4 linked regions of the Homo sapiens genome follow. The protein of the gene in region 4 interacts with the protein of the main gene of each other region in a biochemical or structural test. Each region holds a gene or a part of one and is shown on either strand. Other genes may lie near its edges.

Region 1 (3,500 bases), on a different chromosome or scaffold from region 4:
CTGCAGCAGGAAGGAGCACGGTGAGGTGAGGGCTCAAAGAGCATGAACATAGGGCCTGCAGGAGATGCTGAGAGATCAGCTTTGTCTTCATTTTGAGAAAAATAGGAGTGTATGGAAGACTCCCCCGTCTGTGGAGTAGAGAATCCACTGGAAGCAGGAGAGGGCATGTGCAGATCATGGCAGTGCTGACAGTGGACCAGCTGCTTTCAGAGAAGCATCATGCATAATTTTTCTTGTGTTCCCTGACACTTTATTTTCTACAAGAACCATGAATGCATTTGATAACCAGAGCAGGGGAGGGGACTCGGGGGAGCCAGTGGGGAAGACTGAGCTCAGAGGCCAACCTCCCCTCCCCAGGCCCAATGGTGGCTGGCGGTCAAAAAACAGCTGATGGAGCTGGTTGCTGCCTCCCTCACCGAGAACCTCTGGGCTAGCCCTTGAGCTGATGTGGCTGAGGGAGGTGACATGCATGGGCCAGGTCTCCAACCCCACTCCTACGCCAGGGGACCCTCATCAGCACAGCATTCAGGCAGCCATGGCCCCTGCACAGTCCTGGATGCTCCCTCTTGGAATATCCCTTCAGTCCTGAGAACCGGGACCTGTGGTCCTGGCTGAGGAGGGACCTTCACTCACCCACAGCGACTCTCAGCACTGAACACAGATCAAAGCACTTGTCTGGAGGGTCAGGGGTCTGACCACAAAGTGAGGGACCCCTTTTCTATGCCAAGTTTTGCCTTAGTTTTCCACATTAGCTCATTGACAACAGTCAACTTAAAGGGAATAGGTGCAATTATGATCCTCATTTTACAGGGTGGAAGTTGATTATACAATTTGGGTCATTATTGTAATGCCCAACTAAATCAGAGTTGAGAGGCCAGGGGAAAAATACTCAGGGCACATAACATTGCTCCAAAAATGTAATTCTCTGCAAGCGTGGCTGCTAAAACTGCCTGTTATAACCTAAAACCAGTTTTATTTAATAACTACTGAAACAAATTGCTGTGACCCTAAGACTAGTTTTATCTGCTACCATCATGCAACAATCAGAGCTTGCCAGCTCCCGAAGAGCTTCTCTAGTGCCGATGGACTTTTTTCAAAACAATACATAATATTTCTCATTCTAATAAAACTCCCAACATTCTCTTTGTTTTCCAAACCAAAGACCACCTAGTCTGTATAGATTTCCCAAATTATTATTCTTACTTCCCAAGCAAAATGTTTTAAATTTAGAGAAACATCTGTTTTTATATTTTATTTGACTTTGACAACAGATGATTTGTCTAGGCACAGACTTGGGTTCAAATGTTGGCTGCAGCCAGGCACAGTGGTTCACGCCTGTGATTCCAGCACTTTGAGAGGCTGAGGCAGGAAGATCAGTTGAGCCGAGGAATTCAAGACCAGCCTGGCAACATGGCGAGACCCTTTCTCTATATTTAAAAAACAAACAAACAAACAAAAACCAAAAAGACAAATCTCGGCTGCACTGCTTACAAACACTGTGCTCTTTGGTGGTTACTTCATCTCTCTGAGCCTCAGTTTTCTCACCCCCTCTGTAAAATGGGGCTGGAAGGAATCAGTCAGATTTTGAGGCTAAAATGCACTGTTTGTTCCCTATGGGGGCTCAGTAAAAAAAATTCACTTCACTCTACACTGCTTAAACATTTACTAAAAGCTTGTGTATCCTAACAGTAAATCATGGGACCTCAATTTTCCAGGACTATTCCAATTTCAAATCCTCTGTCCTAACTTTCCATATAAACCATCAAAATGTTTCAAAAATTCCACTCTCTCAGTATCCAAACACTTCTCAGGCCTCCTCTTGCACAAAGCAGTGGCACACACATTCTTTTTTCACACTACAGATCCCGTTCTTTGGTTCAGAAAACGCAGTCAGCACAGTCCTGCCGGTCCCCTAAAGGAAATGGGGTCAGTGCTCCACTGCAATTCAGACTGGGCTGTTTCCCGGCACATCTATGTAAAGGCAGCCAGGGGGAGGCCGGGCCACAATCAGAGCATCACCCACAGAGGGACATACACTGGGCAGAGGAGTTCAGCCCCCACCTACTTGTACCTGGGAGGCAGCCTGGCGACAGGGTTGCTGTGAAGATTAAATGAATTAAGTTACTATTTGGAGAGCACTCACAACAGTGTGTGGCAACCAATAAGTACAGATTAGTGCTGATAACTAAAACCAGAGGCATCCCTGCAGAAGTTACTCCTGCCTCAAAGACAACACAGTGGCATTGCTCCCATCCAGGTGAAAACAAGGAGAATAGGCACTTAGCCCTGGGCTAGGTGAGGCCTGGCCCATGTACAGAGATAAAGCAGACCCGAACCAGAGCAGGTGGGTTCTGCATTAGTGAACACCAAGAGGCTGGATTTGGCTGGGTGCGGTGGCTCACGCCTATATCTCCACACTTTGGGAGGCCAAGGCAGGAGGACTGTTTGAGCCCAGGAGTTCGAGACCAGCTTGGGCAACATAGTAAGACTTTGTCTCCACAAAAAATAAAAAATTAGCTGGGTGTGGTGGCACATGCCTGTAGTCCCAGGTGCGAGGTACAAGGAGGACTGCTTGAGCCATGATCGGGCCACTGCACTCCAGCCTGATGACAGAGTGAGACCTTGTCTCAAAAAACAAAAAAGACCAGGTTGGACTTGGAGAAGAATCACCACGCCTATGATCCACAAAGTCTCTTCATGCCTTTGCCCCTGCTGTTTTGCCTGCCCTAAATGCCATCTTGTTCCTAAGTTTGAGGCTTAATTCAAATTATGCCTTGAAGTTAGAACTAACTTCTCCCCATGGTTAGAACTACGCTCCACAGTGTCTCCTGATGCCCATCGGAATGAATGGCTGCATCCTCTGGTGTCTCTTGCACCTAGCTTATCCTTTTAAAGTACTTACAGGACCATGGACAGATGGATGGGGACGCACATACACATATACAAACTGTCTTTCCAAATCCACCATGAATCCTTCCAAGGCAGGGGTTCAGCGTTCACCTCTGTAGCCCTATGGCCTAATACATGGTAGAGACTCAATAAATGTCTCAATTTGCTGTTAAATCTGTGCTCACACCTGGTCTTGGAATAACAAGTTAACCTGGGGGCAGTGGGAAGCTTCAGGTGCACACACAAGCAGAAGCTCTGGAGATGCAACATTTCTGGGTCTTAGAACCCATTACCAAATCAGTTTTCAGCCAGGGGCTTACCAAGCACTTCTCAGGTCCTTCTCGGCCAGAGGAAAGAAGACATCTATAAGATCAGGCTCTGAGGTCACCTGGACCCAGCCAAGAGCAGTGTGGACACTGACCTGGTCTCCTCCTGTCTCTATTAGAGTTGGAATGAAGAGCTGATGCTGGGTAGGCTACTGCACCCCCACCAGCCCTTCCAGACCAGGGTATGTGCTGGGTGCCTTCAGCATTCCAGCTTCTACAACAGATCTTGGGAAAAGATAAAGAGGCATTGTCCCTGCTTTCCAGGACCGCAATGCTGGAAGGTGA
Region 2 (3,500 bases), on a different chromosome or scaffold from region 4:
ATGTAGTTCAAAGAACACCTACATACCTTTCACATAGATTCATGATTTGTTAATGTTATGCCACTTTGTATATATCTCTCTCCCTCTATCTGTATACTTTTATTTATTTATTTTTGCTGAACTATTTCAGAGTAACTTAAAGGCATCTTGATTTTACCCTTGAACAGTTCAATATGTTTCTGCTAAGAATTCTCCTATATAAGTCAGATATCATTACATCTAAGAAAATTCACGGCAATTTTACAATATAATATTATAGTCCAAATCCATATTTCCTCAGTTGTTCCAAAAAATGTTCATGGCTGTTTCCTTTTTTAATCTAAATTTGAATCCAAGTTTGAGGCATTGTATTTGGTTGCTGTGTCTCTAGGGTTTTTAAAATCTGTGCCTTTTCTTCTCCCCATGACTTTTTAGAAGAGTCAAGACCGGTTATTCTTATAGAATAACCCACATTCTAGATTTGCCTGATTAGTTTTTTTATACTTAACGTATTTTTGGCAAGAACATTACATTGGTAACGCTGTTGGTGATGGGTCAGTTTTGAAGAGTGGAGATGATTAAACTGCTTTTGTTCATTGAAGTATCTGTCAAGACCAGAGATCCTTAACTGGTGCCATAAATAGGTTTCAGAGAATCCTTTATATATACACCCTGTCCCCCACCTAAATTATATACACATCTTCTTTATATATTCATTTTTCTAGGGGAGGCTTCTTGGCTTTTATCAAATTCTCAGAGGGCCCCAAGACCCAAAGAGGTTATGAAACACTAGTCTGTCCACTGAGGCAGGCAACACAGAGCTGGTTTCTGGGGCCTTGTTCAGTCTGAACCAGCTTCCCTTGGGGAGATAGCACAAGGCTGTAACTTTGCCCCATCTTGGCTTTGGATCAAAGAGGACTGTCCATTTTGTTGTCATACCTAGGAACCAGGGACAGCTTATGTGGCCTGGTTCCAGGGATCCAGGAGAATTTCAGTTCTTGTCTTGCCTTTCAGGTGTTCAGAATGCCAGGATTCCCTCACCAACTGGTACTATGAGAAGGATGGGAAGCTCTACTGCCCCAAGGACTACTGGGGGAAGTTTGGGGAGTTCTGTCATGGGTGCTCCCTGCTGATGACAGGGCCTTTTATGGTGAGTGAATCCCTTCATATCTGCCCCTCTTGGTCTTCAGAGTCCATTGACAGTGCTTCCAGTTCCCTGTGGCCTGTTAATCTTTTAGTCTTTCCATCAGCCAGGGCATCTCCCTTTATTTATTCATTCATTCAACTAGCAGGTATCAATTGAGCACCTACTAAGTGAAAGGTAAGATCCTTCCCTCAAAGACTTAATAGTTGAACGTTGGGAGTGGGAGGAGAGGCAGGCAGAGAGGAGACACAATATAGTTGGATAAGGACCTCCAAGGAGAGTGTTACAGGCTGAGAGGAGGATATACTTAGGTTGTCTTTAGGGAATCAGAAAAGGAGACTCTGGAATAGGCTGGCAGAGAGAGGGGCTACCTCCTATACCTGCTCTGGACAAACGACTTTAAGCATAGTGACAGACTTGCCAACCCTGTATTGGAAGAACTGATCTTTTTTAGTGGGGATGATTACTTCTGGGGATTTCTTCTCATAACTGAGACCAAAACAGTTTTGTGCAGTCTCAGAAATGACAGGAGGTACCAATCTGACACTTCCTTTGGAAGCTCTAGGGCAGAGAGTGAAAGAGTGGATTTTGACGGGGGCCTTGCTTGGAGGTCATTCACCCACCCCTGTCCTCACTCCAGCAACAGTGATAACTCACTTCCTTCCTCCCTTTGTACACCCTTCTCCCCACCTGCTCACAGGTGGCTGGGGAGTTCAAGTACCACCCAGAGTGCTTTGCCTGTATGAGCTGCAAGGTGATCATTGAGGATGGGGATGCATATGCACTGGTGCAGCATGCCACCCTCTACTGGTAAGATAGTGGTCCTTTGTCTATCCTCTCCCATATAAGAGTGGCTGGCGGGGAGGGACAGTGGCAGGGTGAGTTGGGCAGAAGGAGTGTTAGGGTAGTCAGAGCATTGGATTCTTACCACAGCAGTGCTCTTAACCAGCTCTTTAACTTGTAAGCAGAATGATTTACACATGTCTCTACCCTTTTTCCTTACCAACCTTGAAAATGTCTTCACTCTGCCCTGCAATCCTCCCAGTGGGAGGCACTCTTCAAGGACGATCCCAGAACATTAAAGTCAAAGACCCCTTAGAGCTCACCCTGTCCAACCACCTTGGTTGATAAAAGAAGTCAGCCTGGGGCCCATGGAATAGAATAGTACAAGGGCAAGGTTCTCATTGTGAGTCAAAGGTAGAGTGAAGAGAACCCAGACCATCTCACCCCAACCCAGGCCAGTGTTTTTCCAAATATACCACTTGCTGCAGATCTAGCTCAGCACCCCCAGTCCCAGCCCACCCTGAGAACCCAGGCTCCTCATTCTGAGCAGCCAGCTAGAATCATGACAAAGAGGGTGGTAGTGAGACTATGGGTACTGTTGCTTAAAGCCACATGGTGCAGTGGTTGCTGGGGGGCTTCTGTGTGGGACTCTAGCATCTTATTCCCCCCTGTGCCCTCTCCCCAGTGGGAAGTGCCACAATGAGGTGGTGCTGGCACCCATGTTTGAGAGACTCTCCACAGAGTCTGTTCAGGAGCAGCTGCCCTACTCTGTCACGCTCATCTCCATGCCGGCCACCACTGAAGGCAGGCGGGGCTTCTCCGTGTCCGTGGAGAGTGCCTGCTCCAACTACGCCACCACTGTGCAAGTGAAAGAGTAAGTATTTTGAGAACCCTTCAGCAGGGGTTCTTGAGCAGAGTCTGTAAATGGGCCTCAGAGGGCTTAGACCTCCAAAGTCTCATGCAGAACTCCCTTTATTCTCATCTCATATCTTTCTCCTGGACCCCACTATGCTGTAACCGTACCTGGGCCTTGGCACTTACTGTTCTCTCTGCCCAGGCTACTTCCTACCCGATACTTAAGGCAAGAATCACTCACCTTTCAGGTGTCAGGTTTCAGGTCATGTTTGCTCTTTGAAATCATCTGGCTTGATTATGTGTATTAGTTGTTTATCTTCTATCCCCTCCACTAGAATGTAAATTCCAGAAGAAACTTGCTGTCTTATTCAGTGCTGCATGCCCAGGGCTTGGAAGAGTACCTGGCATATAGTAGGAGTTGATTGATTATTATTTTGTCAGTCGAGAGAATGAATGGAGAAAATGTGGTCCATGGCCCAAAAGAAGTTAAGACCCTATCCTAGATTCAGGCCAGAGACCAGATGGAGAAAGAGTCTGTGTCTATCTAATACCAGTAATGTCGTACCTCTGGCCGCTTACCATGTAAATATTGATTGTGTATCTACCATGTGTTGGACACTAGGCTAGTGCTTGCACAGCAGGTGAAAGATACTAGAGTTTGGGAAGTCAGGAGGAGCTAAGGTCTGTTCTACAACCTTATTAGATGAAGAGGAGAGGGAATTGTGTTCAGGGCAGAGGG
Region 3 (3,500 bases), on a different chromosome or scaffold from region 4:
CTGTGCTCGGTGGCTCGTGCCTGTAATCCCAGCACTTCGGGAGGTTAAGGCAGGAGGATCGCTAGATCCCAGGAGTTTGAGACCAGCCCTGGCAAGATAGTGAGACCCCATTCCCACAAAAAATTAAAAAATTAGCTGAGCATGGTGTCATGCGCCTTTAAGTCCCAGCTACTTGGGAGGCTGAAGTGGAAAGATTGCTTGAGCATGGGAGGTCGAGGCTACAGTGAGCTATGATCATGCCACTGCACTTCAGCCTGGGCAACAGAGCCAGACCTTGTCTCAAAAAATGAATGAATGAATGAATGTAAGTTGTATATATTTAATATATTTAATCTCCATGCATGGTGAAACAGCTGTGGGAGAACTGAGAAAGGGTGCTTAGTCTAACCTGAGAGCCCAGAAGAGGAGCCTCACACACCTGTGAAGTAGAAGCCAATCCCTGAAGGGACAGGAGGAAACAAGAAGCATGGTTGTGCCTCCTCTTTACATCCCCTGTTCTAATTATTTAAGAACTCAAATCTAGACTTCCATAATTTGGAATGGGGAAAGGATTGCCAGTAATTTTAATCAGCATAGAATTCAACTCTGTGAATAAACCCCTTTGCGTTTCTCCTGACCAGTAGTTAAAATCATGTGAATTTGATTCAGAGAAAAATACAAGAACATGGCCAGGTGCAGTGGCTCACGCCTGTAATCCCAGCACTTTGGGAGGCCAAGGTGGGTGGATTGCCTGAGTGCAGGAGTTTGAGACCAGCCTGGGCAACACGGTGAAACCCTGTCTCTACTAAAATACAAAAAATTAGCTGGGCATGGCGGCGTGTGCCTAAGAGGCTAAAGGCAGGAGAATCACTTGAACCTGGGGGGTGGAAGTTAAAGTGAGTCGAGGTCGTGCAGCTGGACTCCATCCTGGGCGACAGAGTGAGACTCTCTCCAAAAAAACAAAAAACAAGAACACTGTCATGCTGAGAATGGAATCTTGTCCAATTAAGAGTTGTGTTCCCAGCCGGATGTGGTGGCTCACGCCTGTAATCCCAGCACTGTGGGAGGCTTAGGCGGGCGGATCATGAGGTCAGGAGATCAAGACCATCCTGGCCAACATAGTGAAACCCCGTCTCTACTAAAAATACAAAAACTAGCTGGGCGTGGTGGCATGCATCTGTAGTCCCAGCTACTCCGGAGGTTGAGACAGGAGAATCGCTTGAACCTGGGAGGCAGAGGTTGCACTGAGCCAAGATCACACCACTGCACTCCAGCCTGCCAACAGAGCGAGACTCCGTCTCAAAAAAAAAAAAAAAAAAAGAGTTGTGTTCCCATGGAAAGTACTAGTAGCCATTCGATTTGTGACTTTTAAAACTCAAATCCACAGAATTGTGACCTAAATTTTTCCTTTTGATCTGAATGATTAGACTAGATTTCTGAGGGTCTTTAAGATTAAAATATTTTAATTCTGGGCCGGGCGTGGTGGCTCACGACTGTAATCCCAGCACTTTGGGAGGTCTGGCAGGTCGGGAGTTCGAGACTGAACCTGGGAGGCAGAGATGACAGTGAGCCGAGATTGCGCCAGCGCCACTGCACTCCAGTCTGGTCAACAGAGCGAGACTTCGTCTCGGAAAACAAAAAACAAACAAACAAAAAACATTATTTTAATTCTTTCAGATAAGTAAAAGGGGGCACAGCCTATTAGTTGGGAGTTCAGATTAACTTGAGTTGAATCTGAGCTAAAATCATAACAAGTTGGGTGGGGCCACCAGGCACATAGCAACTCACCTGGAATGAACGTGACAAGAACAGTGGAAGAGGATGAGAAGAGGCTTTGAAGGTGCACACTCAACGGTATTCGAATTCTGTCACACCAGTTTTGTGACAGTATTAAACCAGAGTTAGGTAATTTGAATACCTGAGCTTTTGTGCTTTCAGAAACAAAAAAGGAGGGAAATAGGAAAGGGAAGTTCTTTGATATATAGAGGCCTACAATATACCAAAGCTCACTGCTAGACTCTTGGAATCTAATGGAAGTAAACCATGTTTTTGTTTTTGATTTTTGTCTTTGAGAAGCTTTGGTCTATTGAAAAAATTAGAATGCCATGACAGCTTAAAAGCAAAGGCAATCAACTGTACCTAAGAGGTGGGGAGAGGCTTGAAAGAGGAGATGCTCTTCAACTGATTCTTTAAGGATGAGAACAAGTATACGAGGTAGAAGAGGTGGTGGTAGAAGAGATGGTGGCAGTGCTTGCTGGTAAAGACACAGTTATAATTAATGTAGATGATGGGCAGGAACCTAGGAAGGAAAGATAAAGCCAACTTGTAAAGGGCCTCCTCAGCCTTGTAAATGAGCTTAACAATGGGAGCCATCTAAAGTTTTTAAAAAGAGAACTGTCAGATTTTAAAAGGAGAACTGATGAGTTTTACTTTTGAGAAACTGCTCTGGGTGGGGAAAGATCTGAAGGACTAATTCTCTGTTACTGGAGAGGGACCCTGAGAAGCTGAGCCAAGATCAAATGCCATAGGAATGTAAAGTGGCACATAGAAGGTGAGGGGAGAGGTATGATGACTTCAGAGAGGATTGAGTGGTGCCTTTGAGACAAGAGAAAGGGATTAGGGTGGGTGCGTGATTCTTTTCAACAGGAAGAATCTTTCTTTGAGGTACCTGCTGGAAGCCAGGTGGTATTTAGCAATCTGATGGGTTTGTTATTGAGAAGAGAGGTAAGGGCTGAATACATATAGATTTGGGAATCGCAGCTTAGATGGGATCACCCAGAATGAGGAGGCAGAACAGGAATAAGTAGAGAAAGAGAAGCTGCGGAAGGAGAGGCAGCCACAAGCATAGGAGGAGGAGCCATTAGTGATGGCCTGAAAGCCCAGGGACAGAAGGGAGGGGACCTGGGCATTAAATGCTGGTCAGTGATAAAGAATGGTGGTTACTGGCTGGACATGGTGGCTCACGCCTGTAATCCTAGCACCTTGGGAGGCGGAGGCAGGTGGATTGCCTGAGCTCATGCGTTCGAGACCAGCCTGGCCAACACAGTGAAACCCTGTCTCTACTAAAATATAAAAAATTAGCCAGGCATGGTGGCGTGCGCCTATAGTCCCAGCTACTCGGGAGGCTGAGGCAGGAGAATGGCTTGAACCTGGGAGGCAGAGATTGCAGTGAGCCAAGATCGCACCACTGCACTCCAGCTTGGGTGACAGAGCAAGACTCCGTCTCAAAAAAAAAAAAAAAAAAAAAAAAAGAATGGTGGTTAAAGCAGTTTCACTAGAGAAGTACTTAGCTCATCTTGGAATTGAATTTTTTTTTTTTTTTTTTGAGACAGTGTCGCTCTGTCGCCCAGGCTGAAGTGCAGTGGCATGATCTCGGTTCACTGCAGTCTCCACCTCCCGGGTTCAAGTGATTCTCCTGCCTCAGTCTCCTGAGTAGCTGCGATTACAGGCGCCCACCACCATGCCCGGCTAATTTTTGTATTTTTAGTAGAGATGGGGTTTCACCATATTGGACCAGGCTG
Region 4 (3,500 bases):
GTTACATGTTTCCAAATTTTTTTTTAAAAAGTATTTCCTTTCTTATGATCCTTCCCCAGAACTAACATGCTGACTTAGGAACAGATGAAGTAGATAAAGTCTATCCTAGTATAGAGAGCAATGATTTAGTTTTACCTAATTAAATATTTCCTTGTCATTTATCAATTGTCACTGACCTTTTTGATGTAATTATTTCCTCATTCACTCATCTATAAATATTTATTAGTACCTATTATTACCCATGTCTCCCTGATTTTCCAGAAAAAGAATTCATGTTTTTTTTTCTTCTCATTGCTAAGCTCACTTAGAAAAGTTGGGCACCATTTAAAAGAGTTGGAGAACAGACCAGGGTGGCTTCTTGGGCACAGCTGGATGGTGCTGGAAGCCAGGCCTGGGATTTGGAGAGAAGAGTTTCCGACATATAAACCCACGGAGGTCACCAGCCCTCCCCGCATCTACTCTCCTAACAGCTCAGGACAGCCCCGTCACACTACTGCCAGCCCTGGTGACTCACTTTGTTGGCAATTTTTAAAGCCCTCTTCATTATGTACTTCCTACTCTTCAGAACCTCTGTGATAAGCAATACCCCTGCCATACAGAACGCTGGATCTCGGTTTACTCAGCCTCTCCCTGTAGCGTCACAGGCTGTGCACTCACCTAGGTGAGCCCCTAAGAGCAGGGTTTGCTTCTGCTTCACCTAACGCCACGTCTTCCCTCAAATGTGTGGTCACCAAATGTTTGCAAAAAGGGTCTCTAGCTTTTTTTCTTTTTGGCACATTAAGCCCTTTAAAATACTTCTGACCTATCTTTATACTCAGATCTCACCTCGTCTCAAAAAGTTTTATGGGGTAATGCGCCAATGAAAGGTACAGTAGTATTAGTGAGTTCTGAAGCTTCTAATTACAAAGACCACAGAGGCTGGCTGGTGAGCCATGCTTCTCATGCTCCCTTCTGTCACACTGCAGATGTCTCTTTTACCTCGGCCTCATCATCGGTTAGTTATCTGTCAGCAAAATGTAGAAAGGTGATGGGCGTGGATGGAGTCAAAATCCAGGACAATTCTGTCATAAAGGTACAGTAACACTCTTCTCCTTTGCTTGTTTTTCTCAAAGAATGCTTTCTCTTTCTTCTCCAAAGCCTGTGCTCTCAGAAGAGGCTGCTGCATGGAGCTCCGGAGGATCTTTGGAGAGCCTTGTGTAACTTGAACGTTGGCTTCGCTTATGTGTCATGCTTTTTAGATTCTCATTCTGAATAGTGGTTGGGTTGGGACTGGAACTAGGCCTCAAAATGACTTGAGAAGTCTCCCTAATTCCCTCCATCTCATCGAAATTTTGATTGGCTCTGTTGGCTGGAGCACTATTGTTGTTCAGAGTCACGGTGCTGGGAGTTCGGTTCAGGTTGTAGGCTTTCTGGCATGCAGGCCAGTTTTCTTCAGGGCTGCTGGCTATCAAGCTGCATTCGGAAGGGCTTTTCTTGTCTTCTGAACAAATGGACATCCGAGCTATAATTGGATCTTGCAGGCCACTCAGGCTATGTGGGATTCCCCGCTTTCCGCTGTGACTGTCATCTTCCAGCTCTATGAGATTTGCCTTTTCAAGCTGGGAGTCATCCGCCACTTCATTGTGCAGAGAGTGATTGGGAGAACTTTCACTGGATCTCACTCCTGAATCCGATGAATCCTTTTTGTCAAGGAGCGCATCCGATAAATACTCTTTGGCTTTAATGAAGGTTCTGATCGGCTCAGCACTGTGTTCTGGAGACTTCGGCACTCTCTCTACTTTCCCTTCGGCTTTTCTGTCTTTGTCATCTTTGAGCAGTGGAGTGTTATCTGATTCTTCTGTGCCAGATTCATCCTCGTCACTTGGGAGTTTTTGATAGCGCAGCCCACTTCCCTTAAGCTTCAAATCTGTCTGGAAGAGGCTTGACCTTTCGGAAGATTTCTTGCCTGGGAGAAGCTTACTGCCTGACTGATCTGATTTTTCATCTTCTTCAGTGATAGGATCCAGGGGGGAAGCATCGTTGGTGGAAACCCCTGATGATGAATAATCGATAACATCTCCCCTCTTCATTAGAAAGGACTTCCTCCCATCATCGGGCTTTGGTTCACTATCCTTCCCCTTTTCTTGCTCTAGGTTTGAATGAATAGAGCCCCCTGATGAACTCTGACCCATGTAATATGTGCTATGTGGAGAAGATCTGCCACTAATGGTTGTAGACCCGGGGCCCCCTTCTAACTGGGACATCTGAGCAATGTATTCTCTATAGGCATCTCTATACTCGGCCTGCACCTTATCAGTAAGCTTTGAAATTTCAATACTGGAATCCTGGGAATTGAGACTCGAAAGACTTGGGGTTCTGCGAGTTTGTGACTGTGAAGACAGAAAAAAAATAATTTAAAAATTCAAATAAGAAGAAAAAAGGCATAAACATCAGCTTAGGAAATATATATGTACACTAACCATTTAAAAAGTCATCAAAACATCAAATTCTTTTAAAAGAATTCTACATAACACAGATTAACAAAAGCTGTGACCTTATAATGCTGTTACTAGAAAGCTTTCTATAAATTTTAATAAAATCAGTTTATTGTTAATATTTAAAAGTATGATTAAACACTGTATTAACAAATAATCTTAGCACTTGTTTCTGGTTTTTATTTCATTTTTAAGAGACAGGATCTTGCTGTGTTGCCCAGGCTAGATTCAAACTACTGGACTCAAGCAATCCTCCCGCCTCAGCCTCCTGAGCAGCTGGGACTATGGGCATGTCCCACATGCTCGGCCACAGCACTTGTTTTTATAACTTCAAACGTTTAGCTTTTATTTAAGGCCAAAGTCAACTTCATTGATAAAATATAAAATGCAATGAGGCCAATAGTTGGGCCTTAGTAAACAGAAAAATAAAGTAGTTTTACAAGTTTATTTCCAATATTAAGTTTTAGAATTAGAATTTGCTTCAGATCCCAGAATAGCTAAGAAACAAGGAGCAAAAAGTACAGATGAGGAAAAAGAAGGAGAAGAATCAAGAAAGTTTAAGAAGGGTCAAGAGCAAAGGCTAAAACAAAAAAGAAGGAGCAAAGTGAATTTGTTGGGGACCTTCTCAAGGAAATAGGACATTTTCTTCCTTCCCCAAGGCGCTGCTCCTCCTCACCGCTGCCCTGCCCTGCCCACTCAGTGTTACTCGCTGCCGCCCGCTGTGCCTCCTCCCCCGTTGTTCTCCACACCCTGCTCTGCTTTTCCTCCTGCGCTCTCCTCACTCCCGCTACTCCTCCTGCATCTCTCACTTTGCTCTGTCCCTGCCCCTACCCCTACCCCTCACCTGGCCTCCTTCTTCTAAGAATCTCCAAAGGAAGAACGCGCCTACATCTAATGCCAGACCAGAAGAAACCAATATCCGTGAAGGGTGTGCAGGCGTCCTGGAAAACCAAAGGATGGTGCTCAAAGGGACACTATGTGGCCAGTGTTCCAATGAAGATGTACTTCAACCAACAGTTACTGAAT

Evidence for each region. The genes of interacting proteins can lie anywhere in the genome.
Region 1: the proteins of KIDINS220 (region 4) and PTPN3 interact in a test that uses a peptide from one of them, tested with the Homo sapiens proteins (one large-scale study listed by IntAct).
Region 2: the proteins of KIDINS220 (region 4) and LIMK2 interact in a test that uses a peptide from one of them, tested with the Homo sapiens proteins (one large-scale study listed by IntAct).
Region 3: the proteins of KIDINS220 (region 4) and CRKL form a complex in vitro, tested with the Homo sapiens proteins (one study listed by BioGRID).

The regions. Positions count from the first base shown.
Region 1 is NC_000009.12:109,491,808-109,495,307, forward strand, and holds part of PTPN3 (tyrosine-protein phosphatase non-receptor type 3), read right to left. Parts: intron 1-3,500.
Region 2 is NC_000022.11:31,257,298-31,260,797, forward strand, and holds part of LIMK2 (LIM domain kinase 2), read left to right. Parts: intron 1-993; coding exon 994-1,129; intron 1,130-1,823; coding exon 1,824-1,933; intron 1,934-2,591; coding exon 2,592-2,780; intron 2,781-3,500. UniProt on the Homo sapiens protein: Serine/threonine-protein kinase that plays an essential role in the regulation of actin filament dynamics. Acts downstream of several Rho family GTPase signal transduction pathways.
Region 3 is NC_000022.11:20,923,907-20,927,406, forward strand, and holds part of CRKL (crk-like protein), read left to right. Parts: intron 1-3,500. UniProt on the Homo sapiens protein: May mediate the transduction of intracellular signals.
Region 4 is NC_000002.12:8,729,614-8,733,113, forward strand, and holds part of KIDINS220 (kinase D-interacting substrate of 220 kDa), read right to left. Parts: intron 2,370-3,500; coding exon 1,107-2,369; 3' UTR 1-1,106. UniProt on the Homo sapiens protein: Promotes a prolonged MAP-kinase signaling by neurotrophins through activation of a Rap1-dependent mechanism. Provides a docking site for the CRKL-C3G complex, resulting in Rap1-dependent sustained ERK activation.